Linked DNA regions of Homo sapiens. The protein of the gene in region 1 purifies or fractionates together with the protein of each later gene. This does not show direct contact. Each region holds a gene or a part of one and is shown in the gene's direction. Other genes may lie near its edges.

Evidence for each region.
Region 2: the proteins of C6orf89 (region 1) and PTRHD1 purify together in Homo sapiens (affinity purification with mass spectrometry; 3 studies listed by BioGRID and IntAct, with this or other methods). This does not show direct contact.

What each region holds. Positions count from the first base shown.
Region 1 is NC_000006.12:36,895,952-36,902,974, forward strand, and holds part of C6orf89 (bombesin receptor-activated protein C6orf89), read left to right. Parts: intron 1-2,155; exon of another isoform or gene 2,156-2,274; intron 2,275-3,474; coding exon of another isoform or gene 3,475-3,493; coding exon 3,494-3,682; intron 3,683-6,269; coding exon 6,270-6,483; intron 6,484-7,023. UniProt on the Homo sapiens protein: Exhibits histone deacetylase (HDAC) enhancer properties. May play a role in cell cycle progression and wound repair of bronchial epithelial cells.
Region 2 is NC_000002.12:24,790,369-24,797,899, reverse strand, and holds the start of PTRHD1 (putative peptidyl-tRNA hydrolase PTRHD1), read left to right. Parts: upstream 1-4,508; 5' UTR 4,509-4,522; coding exon 4,523-4,774; intron 4,775-4,824; exon of another isoform or gene 4,825-5,214; intron 5,215-5,315; exon of another isoform or gene 5,316-5,516; intron 5,517-6,120; exon of another isoform or gene 6,121-7,308; intron 7,309-7,318; coding exon 7,319-7,489; 3' UTR 7,490-7,531. Other genes in the region: CENPO (centromere protein O), read right to left, coding at 3,935-3,980. UniProt on the Homo sapiens protein: As a putative peptidyl-tRNA hydrolase, it might be involved in releasing tRNAs from the ribosome during protein synthesis. Some evidence, however, suggests that it lacks peptidyl-tRNA hydrolase activity.

The sequences.
Region 1 (7,023 bases):
TATGTTTCAATTCCTCCATGTCCTTACCAACACTTTTTGTCTGACTTCTTGATTGTAGCTATCCCAGTGGATGTGAAATGATATCTCACTGTGATTTTGATCTGCATTTCTCTGATGGTTAATAATGTTGAGTATCTTTTTGTGTGTTTATTGGTCCTTTGTATATCTTTTTTTGAGATGGAGTCTCACTCTGTCACCCAGGCTGGAGTGCAGTGGTGTAATCTTGGCTCATTGCAACCTCTGCCTCCCAGATTCAAGTGATTCTTCTGCCTCAGCCTCCCAGATAGCTGGGATTACAGGTGCCTGCCACCACACCCGGCTAATTTTTGTATTTTTAGTAGAGACAGGGTTTCACCATGTTGACCAGGCTGATCTCGAACTCCTGACCTCAAGTGATCTGCCACCTTGGCCTTCCAAAGCGCTGGGATTACAGACGTGAGCCACTGCACCCAGTCCATTTGTATATCTTTTCTGGAGAAATGGCTATTCAAATCCTTTGTCTATTTTTTTATTTGGTTGTCTTTTTATTACTGATTTGTAATAATTCTTGATGTATTCTATATAGACCACCCCCTTATCAGATATATAATTTGCAAAAATTTTCTCCCATTCTGTGGCTTGTCATTTTACTTTCTTGATGGTATTGAGACACAGAATTTTTGAGGTTTTTCCCCTCCTCTTGTCTTCTACAAAAAGTTTTTAATTTTGATGAAGTCCAATTTATTTTTTCTTTTGCTACTTGTTCTTTTGGTATCATATCTAAGAAACCATTGCCGAATCCCAGAATCATGAAGCCTCCCTCTCTGTGTTTTCTTCGAAGTTTTATCATTTTAGCTTATAAATTTAGGTATTTGATCCATTTTGAGTTAATTTTTGTGTATAGTATAAAGAAAGGGACAGGCATGGTGGCTCACACCTGTAATCCCAGCACTTTGGGAGGCTGAGGCAGGCGAATTGCCTGAGGTCAGGAGTTCGAGACCAGCCTGGCCAACATGGTGAAACCCCGTCTCTACTAAAAATCCAAAAAAATTTGCTGGGCGTGGTGGTGGGTACCTGTAATCCCGCTACTTGGGAGGCTGAGGCAGGAGAATCGCTTGAACTCGGGAGGCGGAAGTGGCAGTGAGCCAAGATCGCGCCACTGCACTCCAGCCTGGGCAACCAGAGCAAGACTCTGTCTCAAAAAAAAAAAAAAAAAAAAAAGAAAAGAAAGAAAGGTCCAACTTCATTTTCTCATTTGTGGATATCCAGTGGTCCTAGCATCATGTATTGAAAATAATACATTAAAAATTATATAGCTGTCCCTTGGTATATGTAGGGTATTCGTTCCAGAATCTCCATATACACCCAAATCCTTGCATATTCAAGTTTCACAGTTGATTCTTCAGAACCTGTTTATACAAAAAATCATCCCTCTGTATATGTATATGCAGTTTTTGCACCCTGAAAATACTGTATTTTCAATCCTGGGTTGGTAGAAAAAAATCAGCTTTTAAGTGTATCCACATAGTTCAAACCCATGTTGTTCAAGTCTCAACTGTAGTTTGTACTGTCTTTTTATCTGAATGTGGGGGGTATAGTGTGGTGGGCTCTTCTCTCATTCCCCCAGTTCCTGGAAGTCTAGATTGCATGCCTTTTAATCCACCATTAGAAGTCTTCTGATTCTGATTTAATTGCTCTGAGTTGATGCCCAGGTATGAGCATTTATGAAACGCTCTCTAGGTGATTCTAATGTGCAAGCCAGGTTAAGACCTAATGAACTAAACACTTAATAGTCGTAAAGAGGACCAAACAGGAGTGATTGGGAGGCACACTGCTGGAAGAGGAGGTGTGCTGGCGTGCGCTGGGTTGTGTTGTAACAACATGACTATGTCCTCCACCCTACAGGTGGCAGCATCTCCTTACTGAGAGAATACACGTACTATGTCAGTACTTTTTGGGGCTAGAAGTACTGTAGGAATGAAGTATGCAAAATAAAAGGACCCTCTGTATTGAAAATAAATATATAAATAAATAAAGCCCAGTAGAAGAGAGCACAAACCCGAAGAAGCACTCTTCTTCCTCCTGTAAATGAAGAAAAATATTATTGTTCTGTAACTTAAACACCTTTTTAAATAGCCATTTAATTATTTTATCTTATTTTATTTCTCTAGAGATGGGATCTCGTTCTGTCTCCCAGGCTGGAGTGCAGTGGTATGATCATAGCTCACTGCAGCCTCAAACTCCTGGGCTCAAGCAGTCCTCCCACCTCAGCTTCCCAGGTAGCTGGGACTACAGGTGTGTGCCACCAGGCCAAGCTGATTTTTAAAATTTGTTTTTCTTTTCTTTTCTTTTCTTTTTTTTTTTTTGAGATGGAGTTTCGCTCTTGTTGCCCAGGCTGGAGTGCAATGGCGTGATCTCGGCTCACCACAACCTCTGCCTCCCGAGTTCAAGAGATTCTCCTGCCTCAGCCGCCCGAGTAGCTGGGATTACAGGCACCCGCCACCATGCCAGGCTAATTTAGTATTTTTAGTAGAGGCGGGGTTTCTCCGTGTTGGTCAGGCTGGTCTTAAACGCCGGACCTCAGGTGATCCGCCTGCCTCAGCCTCCCGAAGTGCTGGGATTACAGGCACGAGCTATTGCGTCCAGCCTTGGAACTATTTAATTTCATTTTACAAATGATACAGAGAGAACTCTACTTTGCCCCATTAGTTTTTACCTTTTGTTCTCTGGGCATGATGAAACAATCTGTCTTTAAAATAACTATAGGAACACAAATTGAATTTTTAAATTAGTTAAAAATCTTAGGTATTTTAAGTATATAAAATACAAATAAAATGCCCTTTATTTTCTAAAATTGTATTTGTAGAAAAGCATGAGGACTCTGGTTGCTCCAGAAGAAATTAAAAAAAAGAAGAAGAAAGAAAAGTGTGAGGACTGCAAGCCACATGCCATGGTTTTTGTGTTGTCTGAAATCTTTGCTCTGCCAAGAACAAAGCTTATCAGCCTGTTGCTCTCAGTAAATCACCTTCAGTAATCTTCAGTGATCAGTTCTTCCTCTTGTGTTGAACACAAATGTTCAACAACAGCGTTAAACAACACTGTGCATAATCCATTTTTTTTTTATTTTAAGGAATCTCCAGTAGCAGATCTCCCATCATTGGTGTCAGAAATCTTTTTTGGATGTCATTAGTGCTTCAGAGTCCCATTAGGATATATTGTGCTCTAGACCAGTGCTCCTCAGTTTGCACTAGTTTGGGAACTAGTGCAGGTCTGTAAACTGTTCCTGGCCCACAGTTAACGAATATTTTAAAACTTGTATGGCAATTTGACATTGTCTCTGTGTATTCATTGTGTTTCATGAAAGTATTGGTCTGTAGAGGATTGAGGAAAGCACAAAACTGGTCCTTCTCTACAGATGGTCAAGTAGCTTTGAAGAGGAAGTACCTAAAGAAACCACCTTTCTTTTTACATTTATTTTCTCTCCGTCTCTCTCAGGGATTTTATATTGGAAGACATGGATCTTGCTGCCAACGAGATCAGCATTTATGACAAACTTTCAGAGACTGTTGATTTGGTGAGACAGACCGGCCATCAGTGTGGCATGTCAGAGAAGGCAATTGAAAAATTTATCAGACAGCTGCTGGAAAAGAATGAACCTCAGAGACCCCCCCCGCAGTATCCTCTCCTTATAGTTGTGTATAAGGTAAAATGTTTCCTGAGTTGGTAATTGCTTCAACAGAACACAAACTGTTCAACATTCTTCACAAATGCTATTGTTGACTAATCCCACCACTGAGCATTGGTTTTTCCGTGAATAAATTGGCCTTTGCTCTTGTTACCATGTGTTACTAGGAAATTTGACTGTGTTGTTAAAGGTCCTAGATGAAAGCTGCATATTTACAGTTAAATTATATTTGTGTAATATTATTATTTAATTTTTTATTATTTGTTTGTTTGTTGTGTGTGTGTGTTTTGAGACGGAGTCTCACTCTTGTTGCCTAGGCTGGAGTGCAATGGCGCAATCTCGGCTCACCGCAACCTCTGCCTCCTGGGTTCAAGTGATTCTCCTGCCTCAGCCTCCCAGGTAGCTGGGATTACAGGCGTGCGCCACCACACCCAGCTAATTTTGTATTTTTAGTAGAGACAGGTTTTCTCCATGTTGGTCAGGCTGGTCTTGAACTCCTGACCTCAGGTGATCTGCCCACCTCAGCCTCCCAAAGTGCTTGGATTATAGGCGTGAGCCACCACGCCTGGCCTTGTGTTTTGTTTTTTTTTGTTGTTTTTTTTTTGAGATGGAGTCACACTCTGTTGCCCAGGCTGGAGTGCAGTGGCGTGATCTCAGCTCACTGCAACCTCCGCCTCCCAGGTTCAAACGATTCTCCTGCCTCAGCCTCCCAAGTAGCTGGGATTACAGCCATGTGCCACCACACCTGGCTAATTTTTGTATTTTTAGTAGAGACAGGGTTTCTCCATGTTGGTCAGGCTGGTCCTGAACTCCTGACCTCAGGTGATCTGCCCTCCTCGGCTTCCCAAAGTGCTGGGATTACAGGCCTAAGTCATCGCACCTGAACAGATTTTTTATTTTTCTAGTCAAGGTCACACTGTGTTGCCCAGGCTGGAGTGCAGTGGTGCCATCATGGCTCACTGCAGCCTCGAACTCCCAGACTCAGGTGATCCTCCCATCTCAGCCTCCCAAGTACCTAGGACCACAGGCATGTGCCACCACACCTGGCTAATTTTTCTATTTTTTGTAGAGATGGGGGTTTTTCCGTGTTGTCCAGGCTGGTCTCGAACTCCTGGGCTCAAGTGACTTGAGTCCAGTCAATCACTGTCAGACTGAGTTCGAGACTGCCCACCTCAGTCTCCCAAAGTGCTGGGGTTACAGGTGTGAGCCACTGCAGCCAGCCTTTATGTATGTATTTATTTATTTTTTGAGACAGAGTTTCACTCTTGTTGCCCAGGCTGGAGTGCAATGGTGTGATCTTGGCTCAGTGCAACCTCCGCCTCCCAGGTTCAAGCAATTCTCCTGCCTCAGCCTCCCAAGTAGCTGGGATTACAGGCATGCGCAACCATGCCCGGCTAATTTTGTATTTTTAGTAGAGATGGGAGTTTCACTATGTTGGTCAGCTGGTCTCGAACTCCTGACCTCAGGTGATCCACTCACCTCAGCCTCCCAAAGTGCTGGGATTACAGGCATGAGCCACTGTGCCTGGCCTAATACTTGTATTTTTGGTAGAGGTGGGGTTTCACCATGTTGGCCAAGCTGGTCTCGAACTCTTGACCTAAGGTGATACACCCGCCTTGGCCTCCCAAAGTGCTGGAATTACAGGTGTGAGCCACTGCGCCCGGCCCCTTTGTGTATTATTATTATTATTATTATTATTATTATTATTTTTTTTTTTTTTTTTTTTTTTTTTTTTTTGAGATGCAGTCTCACTCTGTTGCCCAGGCTAGAGTGCAGTGGTGCGATCTTGGCTCACTGCAAGCTCCATCTCCCAGGTTCACACCATTCTCCTGCCTCAGCCTCCTGAGTAGCTGAGACTACAGGCGCCCATCACCACATCCGGCTAATTTTTTGTATTTTTAGTAGAGACAGGGTTTCGCCGTGTTGGCCAGGATGGTCTCGATCTCCTGACCTCGTGATCCACCTGCCTCGGCCTCCCAAAGTGCTGGGATTACAGGCGTGAGCCACTGCGCCCGGCCCCCTTTGTGTATTATTATTATTATTTTTATTTATTTATTTTTATTTTTTTTTTGAGACGGAGTCTCTCGCTCTGTCGCCCAGGCTGGAGTGCAGTGGCGCGATCTCGGCTCACTGCAAGCTCCGCCTCCCGGGTTCCCGCCATTCTCCGGCCTCAGCCTCCCAAGTAGCTGGGACTACAGGCGCCCACCATCATGCCTGGCTAATTTTTTTGTATTTTTAGTAGAGACGGGGTTTCACCGTGTTAGCCAGGATGGTCTCGATCTCCTGACCTCATGATCTGCCCGCCTCGGCCTCCCAAAGTGCTGGGATTACAGGCGAGAGCCACCATGCCCAGCCTGTGTATTTTTAAATGGTGAATTTTAAAATACACTGATTATATGGTAGCAGCTTGGTGAGCCTTGCAGTCCCTATAGTTCTCAAATTCTAAATTCTTCCAGAAGTAAACCTAAGTGGCTTGTTTATGAAAATGGATTAGTTCTTAAGGCACATTGGAAGTAGCAGAAGAAGCCTGTTTTGTTTTGTTTTTTTTCTTGGTATTAAGGTATTTGTTTGCTGGGATTAATGCCTTTTCTATCTTTCCTTGTAGGTTCTCGCAACCTTGGGATTAATCTTGCTCACTGCCTACTTTGTGATTCAACCTTTCAGCCCATTAGCACCTGAGCCAGTGCTTTCTGGAGCTCACACCTGGCGCTCACTCATCCATCACATTAGGCTGATGTCCTTGCCCATTGCCAAGAAGTACATGTCAGAAAATAAGGGAGTTCCTCTGCATGGGGGTGATGAAGACAGACCCTTTCCAGGTAAAATGCAACATTTATTACTTATTAGATATAGTTTTCTTGACAGTATATGATAGGAAAGGAAGTAACATTTATTGATACCTAATGAGAGGCAAGCTCCCTATATTGTATCTTTTAATTCAGTCCCCACTAAAACTCTATGAGATGGGGTTTATTATCCCCGTTTCACAGATTAAGAAACCAAGGGTCAGAGAGATTAAGAAACTCGCTAGAGGAACATCTGGTAGAGCCAAATACACACCCCCAAATTCCAGAACACACATGATGGGGACAAATGTCTTTGCCCATAAAAAGGATTTGATTGTATCTCATCCTTTTCTCTCCTGTGATTCCTGTCCATAATGCATATTTAATACATAGGTATTGGTTTATTGAAAGCAACCGAGTTCAGCTTGCTTCTAAAGGTCCTCTAACAGTCCTTGGCCTATTGGGCTAGGTTTTTGTCTGGGTATATCCCACTCTTTCAGTTTAGTCCTTCTGTCTGTCACAGCTCATTTAATTTAGTCCTCTAAAGTATATCAATTTTGCCAGTAAGTAGAA
Region 2 (7,531 bases), on another chromosome or scaffold:
CACTTGAAACTCACTTCTGTTCCCATTATTTTACAAAACCACTCTAAGATCAACAGTGATATCCATGTTGCTGAACCCAAAGGACATTTTTCAAGCTCCCTTATCTCACCTCCCAGCACTATATGCTCCTACTGATCACCACCTTCACGAAACCCTCTTTTCCTCTGAATCTTAGCATAGCGGCCTGTTGGTATGCCTTGTTCAACAGATGTTTATTAAGCATCTATTTTGTGCCAAGTACTATTTCAGGCACTGGGAACATAGTGATGAACAACAGACAACCTGTTTTTGTGACACTTACATTTTACCTCTCTGACCCCACTTTCTGCTTTGAAGGCTCCTACTCTCCTCCTTGACCATTAAATGCTGAAATTTTCCAGAGCTCAGTCCTAAGACCTCTTCTTTCCAGAAGAAATCTCATCAGTACCCACAGCCTTAATGGCCATACATGTCGATGCCACACAAATATGTATCTCTAGCTTATACCTCTCTCCTGCTTCTTGAGAAAGCAGAATATCCACCTGCCTTCTCAGTGTATCTACTTGGAAGACTTACAGGAACCTGACAATCAACATGTCCAAGACTGAATTCATCATCTCCCCTTCTAAACCCCTCCATGACTGGAACCATTATCCATCTATAGCTGTGTAAACCAGTACTTTCTTCCTCACACCTTCTCCCTGACCCAGTCCCAATCCATTACCAGATCCTATTGAATATACATTCCTAGTATCTCTAAAATATTTCCATTTTCCCCATCTGCAATGCCACCATTGTAGTTCAAGCTACTACCATTTCTGGCCTATTACAAGTTTCCTAGGTGGCCCATACACTGAAGCCATATTTCAAAATCTAAACTGGATCGTGTCATCCAGCTGGCTAAAGCCTTTCGATGACTTCACACTGCCTACGAGGCCTACTGGCCTCTGGATCTCTCTTACCCTCATCAGTATCATGCTGCTCCTTCTCTAGGCATTTCCACACAGGCCTCCTCTCAGGCTCTCAAACCCGCCCAGCGTCTTTACTGACCTGATCCCCCCACCCCCAACACACACACCAAAGGCTCTTCCACAGCCGCCCCTTATCCACCTTCACCTGCAGCTACTCTAGCTCGTTAGCACTCAATGCAAGCAGCATTTCCTCAGGGAAACCTTTGTAGCACCTTCAGAACAAGGTCAGGTGCCAGCTCATAAGCTCTCAAAGATCCTTCTGAGACAATACTATAGTTTTTTTGTTTTTGTTTTTTAAATAAAGAGATGGGGTCTCACTATGTTTCCCAGGCTGGTCTCAAACTCCTAAGCTCAAGCGATCCTCCCACCTCGGCTTCCCAAAGTGCTAGGATTACAGGCGTGAGCCACCGCACCCGGCCACTATAGTTTTAATTGTATATTCATTAGTGTGATTATTTGATTTGCTTATCTTTTCCACTGAACCTTAAAGTTCCAAAATCAGGGACCGTGTGCATTTGTGTTCACCCATGGATCCCTTAACCCTAGCACAAAGTGTTTACACATGGTAAACACTCCGGAAATGGTTATTTTTTTCTGAGACGAAATCTCACTCTGTTGCCCAAGCTGGAGTGCAGTGGCGCGATCTCAGCTCACTGCAACCTCTACCTCCCAGGTTCAAGCAATTCTCCTGCTTCAGCCTCCCAATTAGCTGGGACTACAGGCATGCACCACGATGCCCGGCTAATTTTTGTATTTTTAGTAGAGATGGGGTTTCACTATGTTAGCCAGACTGGTCTTGAACTCCTGACCTTGTGATCCACCCGCTTTGGCCTCCCAAAGTGCTGGGATTACAGGTGTGAGCCACCGCGCCCGGCCAACACTCCGGAAATGTTTACCGAAACACGGACAACCAGGCATGACACTCTTGGAGATTACATTCACTTGGCTCATGTCCACAGAAAAACCCACATTACCGCAATAATAATCGTGAGAAACCAAAATTCTAATTAAATAAATTAGTCCTAATAATTAGCACGTGATTAACTGCTTTATTCACCAATCTCTATTTATCCAACAACTATGCATTGAGAATTTACTATGGACCAAGGACCGTGCTGGAAGTTATTCATACTGTGGTGGCAAAACGAAGTCCCTGTCCTCACGGAGCTTACAAAAATTAATGTCCAACCAGGAGGTGATCTGAAAAGCACGCACACATAGAATAATTTAGGGTGGTAGAGGAGACGCCTCACCAAATTCTACTTTATGGAAATTCTATATTACTAAAACAGTAGATATCAATATTCCCAAAGTTTCTGAGATAAGTAGGTGTTCAAAACAGTATCATGCTGCTCCTTCTCTAGGCACTTCCACACAGCCCTCTTCTCAGGCTCTCAAACCTGCCCAGCTTCTTTACCGACCTGATTCCCTCTACACCAAGGGGGTAGCGTTGTTGTTTAGCGTTGCTACTACAGAAAAGAGGGAGTGTATCTGCTGGGCCTGCTTTACCTTGGAAGTTATGATTGCATCTCATCCTAGCCAGTCAGCTTTGTCCCAAAAAAAGTCAAAATCCCTGCCTATTTGAATAAATCATCTGGTTGCAACTACAACTCCATGTCCTTCCTTCTCAAATGAGTGGGGAGAATTCAAATAATAAGCAAAAAACTGAAATCAAACAAGCAGAGGGATAAAACCAGTATGGGTAACAGCTAAGTGTTTAAATATTGTTTTGGGTAGAGAATAAGGAGACTGGTCTAAGTCTCTTGATAATCCAAAACTTCCACCTCATCACTTACTTTAACAGAAATGAAATAAGGCCTGGACTAGAGAACAGGTTACTCCTGAGTGTAGCATGTTTCCACTACATAAAGTCACCAAACTTATTTTTAGTCTTAAAGTAACAATAAATCTTACCCCATATACTTTTATTATCTAAAGTCTCAGCTTAAGTCATCTTAGGCTGAATATAGTTACTTCTCTGTTATCAATGATAATGATGACCCAGAGAAAAATAGGATAACCAAATTCACTGACGCGCTCAGAAATTCTTTTTAAAACTGTAATTTAAGTTAGGTTTTATGGCAAGCTTTCCCAAAGTACTAACGTAGAACCCTTTGGATTTAGGCATCAGGCTTGAGTAAGTATTTCAAAGTTCTAAAAAGTATTAGTAGCAAAGAACATAAAGTCACACAAAACCAGAACTGTCCACAAATATTACTAGGCACTAAAGAAGAAAGCAACTTACTCCTGGACAGAAATTCAAACGCAAATCTCAGTTTCCAAAGGATTGACTAAGGACTAAGTAAAAGTAATAGTTTCGTAATTCTAAGCAACTCTAACAAGCATTCTTTAAACACCTTCTACATTTTAAGACACAAAGTATGTAAAGAATTAAGCCTTTCATTGAATATTTCCTATATATTAGACATGTGCTAAATGCTTCACTTGAAAAGTCTGAGTTCAATACTTTTCCACCACAAAAGAAATACTTTTTCCACAACCACAACTACAGTGCTATTTTCACCTCCATTTTCCAGATGAAGAAACAGAGGCAGAGAATAAAGTGACTTGCCTAAGGTCACAATATTTATCATGGCAGAGCCAACACTCAAAACCAGTTCTAGCCAACACTAAAGTCACTGCCCTACACTGGCCCTCCCTCAAGAGTAATGCATACATGGCCCAAAAAATCCGGGGAGAGGAAAGGGACCTCCCTGGCTAGAACCGCAGTTCAGAATATAAACACTGAGCATATGATGGATGCAACTTATCCGTTTCAAAAGGGGTGGGAGCCTAGAAACGAAGCCATTTTTCCTCCTCGAATAATCTTGGCTGCCTGTCCCTTTGTCTTCAATGTTAGTTCCTTTCACTATTCTGCTCCCAAACAGGCCAGGTCCCACGTCAGTTCCAGGAGGAAAGGGCTCTCTCAGCCTGCGGGTCATCTTTGGGCAGCAGCAGGAAGGAGGCGGCGACCCTCTGAATACCTCCTTTGGACTCGCCATCTGGACGTAAAGGGTTCGCCTGCTCCATCTCAGATTCCCAAGGGCCTTCCCATGAAGTTGTCTAGGCAACCGGTGATAGGGACTCCAATGTCCTTGCTAATAAAAGAAAAATGGCAACAGTCACATCACATCTAGTCCCATTCAAACCCAGACGGCAGGGCACACACCACTCAGGCACAACCCCTGGGCCGCGGATGACACAAATGTCACGGCTAGGATCCCCTTTCCTGAGCCGCCCGCCCTCTCCCATCGTCCGAGCCAGCAGAGTCCATGCCCACCCCCGCGCCCATCCCGCGGCCCCGGCGCGCTCCCGAGGCCACGGCTACTCTGGTCCAGCGGGCTTCCCGGCCACGGAAGGAGTTTTAAGAAGGCCGTTCAGCCCGCCACCCTGGCCACGGTCCGGTCCGACAATGGGTCTTTCCCCTACCTTCTCCCTTCTAGCTCACCCAGGCCAGAAGCGAGAATTCCCGCCATCCACGTCTTCAAAACCAAACCAACCGGTCCCGGCGTGCTTTGCGATCCTGCCGTACAAAAGCATGGCGGCGCTCAGGGCCCCGCCCTGATCCCAAGATGCACCGGGGAGTAGGTCCGGCCTTTCGGGTGGTCAGGAAGATGGCGGCCTCTGGGGCGGAGCCGCAGGTCCTGGTACAATACTTGGTGTTACGAAAGGATCTATCACAAGCTCCGTTCTCCTGGCCGGCGGGCGCACTGGTAGCGCAGGCTTGTCACGCGGCCACCGCGGCCTTGCACACTCACCGCGACCACCCGCACACAGCCGCTTACCTCCAAGAGCTGGGGCGCATGCGCAAAGTGGTCCTCGAGGTGAGGCACTCGGGCGGAGGGGGAGGTGCTGAGACATCGAGGGCGGAAGTGGGTGTGGTCTTCGGTCCGAAGGCCTGGCTGCGGGGAGTGGGTGCGGCGGGAGTTGGGGTGATCGTTAACATTTAGACTGGAGCTGTTTCCCTGGAGGTGCGCCCTTGGGAAGGGCCTGACTGTGTGAAGAGTGGACAGCAGTCCTCCGCCCCCTGCTGGGCTCGCGGTAAAGTGGTGGCTCCTGTGTCCCCGCTGTTCCGCCTGTGCACTGGCCGACTTTTTAAAGCCATGCCCCAAAGTGCTGTCCTCCTGCAAAACCGAGCCCGAAGGGACAGTGCAAAGTGAAGTCAAACTGAGTATTTACCTGGGTAGGACGCCAAATTATTTGAAAATAAATACTAAAAACGTTAGTATAAATTGAACCTAGCTTCAGCTAGACCAGGCACCAGGTGTGTAAATCGGTACACCTTTTAAAATAGCAGTCAGGTTCTGTTTGCAGATGACCAAACAAATCTCACCCTTACCCTTTGACTCTCTATCCTGCTGCTAGAGATGTAGCCTAAGAAAATAATCAGATGCACCCAAAGAGCTTTGCACAAGGATATTCATGGGAGCCCTTATGGTTTTGAAGCATATTTAGTGGTCGGGAAGAGTGCTCATGATGCGAAGCTAACTGAACTATATATACAGAATGATCCAGACTTTGAAAGGAAAAACTAAAGAAATACATCTACATATTAAGTAGTGCATGGTGAGATTTTGGTTATTTCCTAATGCTTAATCTGTATTTTTAAAATTTTCTACCTTAAGCACATATTTTATAATAAGGAAAAACGGCTTTAATAATAAACGGCTTTTTATAATAAGGAAAAACGGCTTTAAGCCAGAACTCAGGTGGAGGGGTGGAGTAATCCCTTCATGGGTAACTGACAAAGATAGATTATCTTTCAAGAGAAAAATTGCTGCTGGATAGTGAAACATCAAGCGGTAACCTGTAGGAAAAATGCCTTGAGAATCTGTGTAGGCAGAACAGAAGCTGCTGGCTTTTCACTTAGATTTTCTTCCTAGTAAGAGGTCTCAAGAAATCAGGTTAGACTCCTCTTGTCGCAGGTGAAACTCTCTGAAGCCTACAGGGATTAAGTGACTCCCCTGAGTTTAAAAGAGGGTCTCATGATTCTTAGTTGTTAGTCATGACTCAAGAAAGGGACTTAGGAGTCGCTACTGATTACATTGAGGTGCCGCTGTAGTCAGAAGGGCCAATAAAATATAAGAAAATACCAGGATTAACTACATTTATTGAGTGCTTAGTGTGTGCCAGGCACAGGTCCAAGCCTGATTTCATTGATCCCCATTAGGAAGCATTATTCCTGTTTTATAAAGGGACGAAGAGGCCAGCGAAGTCACCTAACTTATCCACGATCACACAGTCAGCAAGAGTTTGGAGTCCAGTAGTCTGATTCCAGAGCCTCACTGTATCTCACTATGCTCTGCTGCTGCCCGAGGCTGAAGAAGCTGATGAGTCCTCCAGCAGAGCTCTGCCAGAAGGACTCAGCAGGTTAAGAGTCGCAATACTGGCATTCTCTAATTTATTAAAACAAGCCTCTGAGTAGCTTAGTGGCTTCTGCCTTCATAGGTAAGAGATAAACTTTATGCAAAATAACACAAAAATAATAATTTTCTGAGTGATCGTTTTAATACTTCCTGGAATGGGATTCAGCATGGGTGAATTGGCAGTAAGGATGACCCAGAAACAATTTCAGAAGGATGTTAGAGAATATTGTACTCTCCCTTTAATAAACAAGTGGGAGCCATCCCAGCAGAAGGAAAACCCCTCTAGGTTTCAGTGAGGTAGAGTGGGAGGGGTGGAGGAAAGTGGAAGTGGATGTGCTTTTAGAAATCCTTCCACTAGGGGCCGGGCATGGTGGCTCACTCCTGTAATCCTAGCACTTTGGGAGGCTTAGGTGGGTGGATTGCTTGAGGTCAGGAGCTCCAGACCAGCCTGGGCAACATGGTGAAACCCCGTCTCTACTAAAAATACAAAAATTAGCCAGGTGTAGTGGTGTGCGCCTGTAATCCCAGCTACTCGGGAGGCTGAGGCAGGAGAATTGCTTGAACTCGGGAGCCAGAGACTGCAGTGAGCTGATAATCGTGCCACTGCACTCTAGCCCAGGCGACAGAGCAAGACTCTGTCTCAAAAGAAAAAAAAAAAAAAACTTCCACTAGGCAGCTCTTAAAGTCAGAGGCACTTAAAATTATGGGCGCCAGCCATAGGAGAGCTGGAAAATGTATAGAGCAGAATTACACATTACACATGTGTGTGTTGGGCATACAACATCTCACAAGGGAAGATACAAATCTCCATTTTCTAAACTGGAATATGAAGCCTCTCTCCCCTCCCCAGTGCACCACGGAATGACATCATTGCTCTGCAGCTCCCTCCTTGGTAAAGCTGTTACTCCACTTTCAGGCAAGAGGACTCCCGAAACCTTTTTTGGCCTTTTGACACTTCCTAAGTGGGCTATTCAGTTTGTGTTCTGTGTTCTTCTCCTTTAGGCCCCAGATGAGACCACCCTAAAGGAGCTGGCCGAGACCCTGCAACAGAAGAACATTGACCACATGCTGTGGCTTGAGCAACCAGAGAATATCGCCACTTGTATTGCTCTCCGGCCCTACCCCAAGGAAGAAGTGGGCCAGTATTTGAAGAAGTTCCGATTGTTCAAGTAACTGCTGCTTTGATGTGTTTGAATACGCAGGCCACCCATTCCA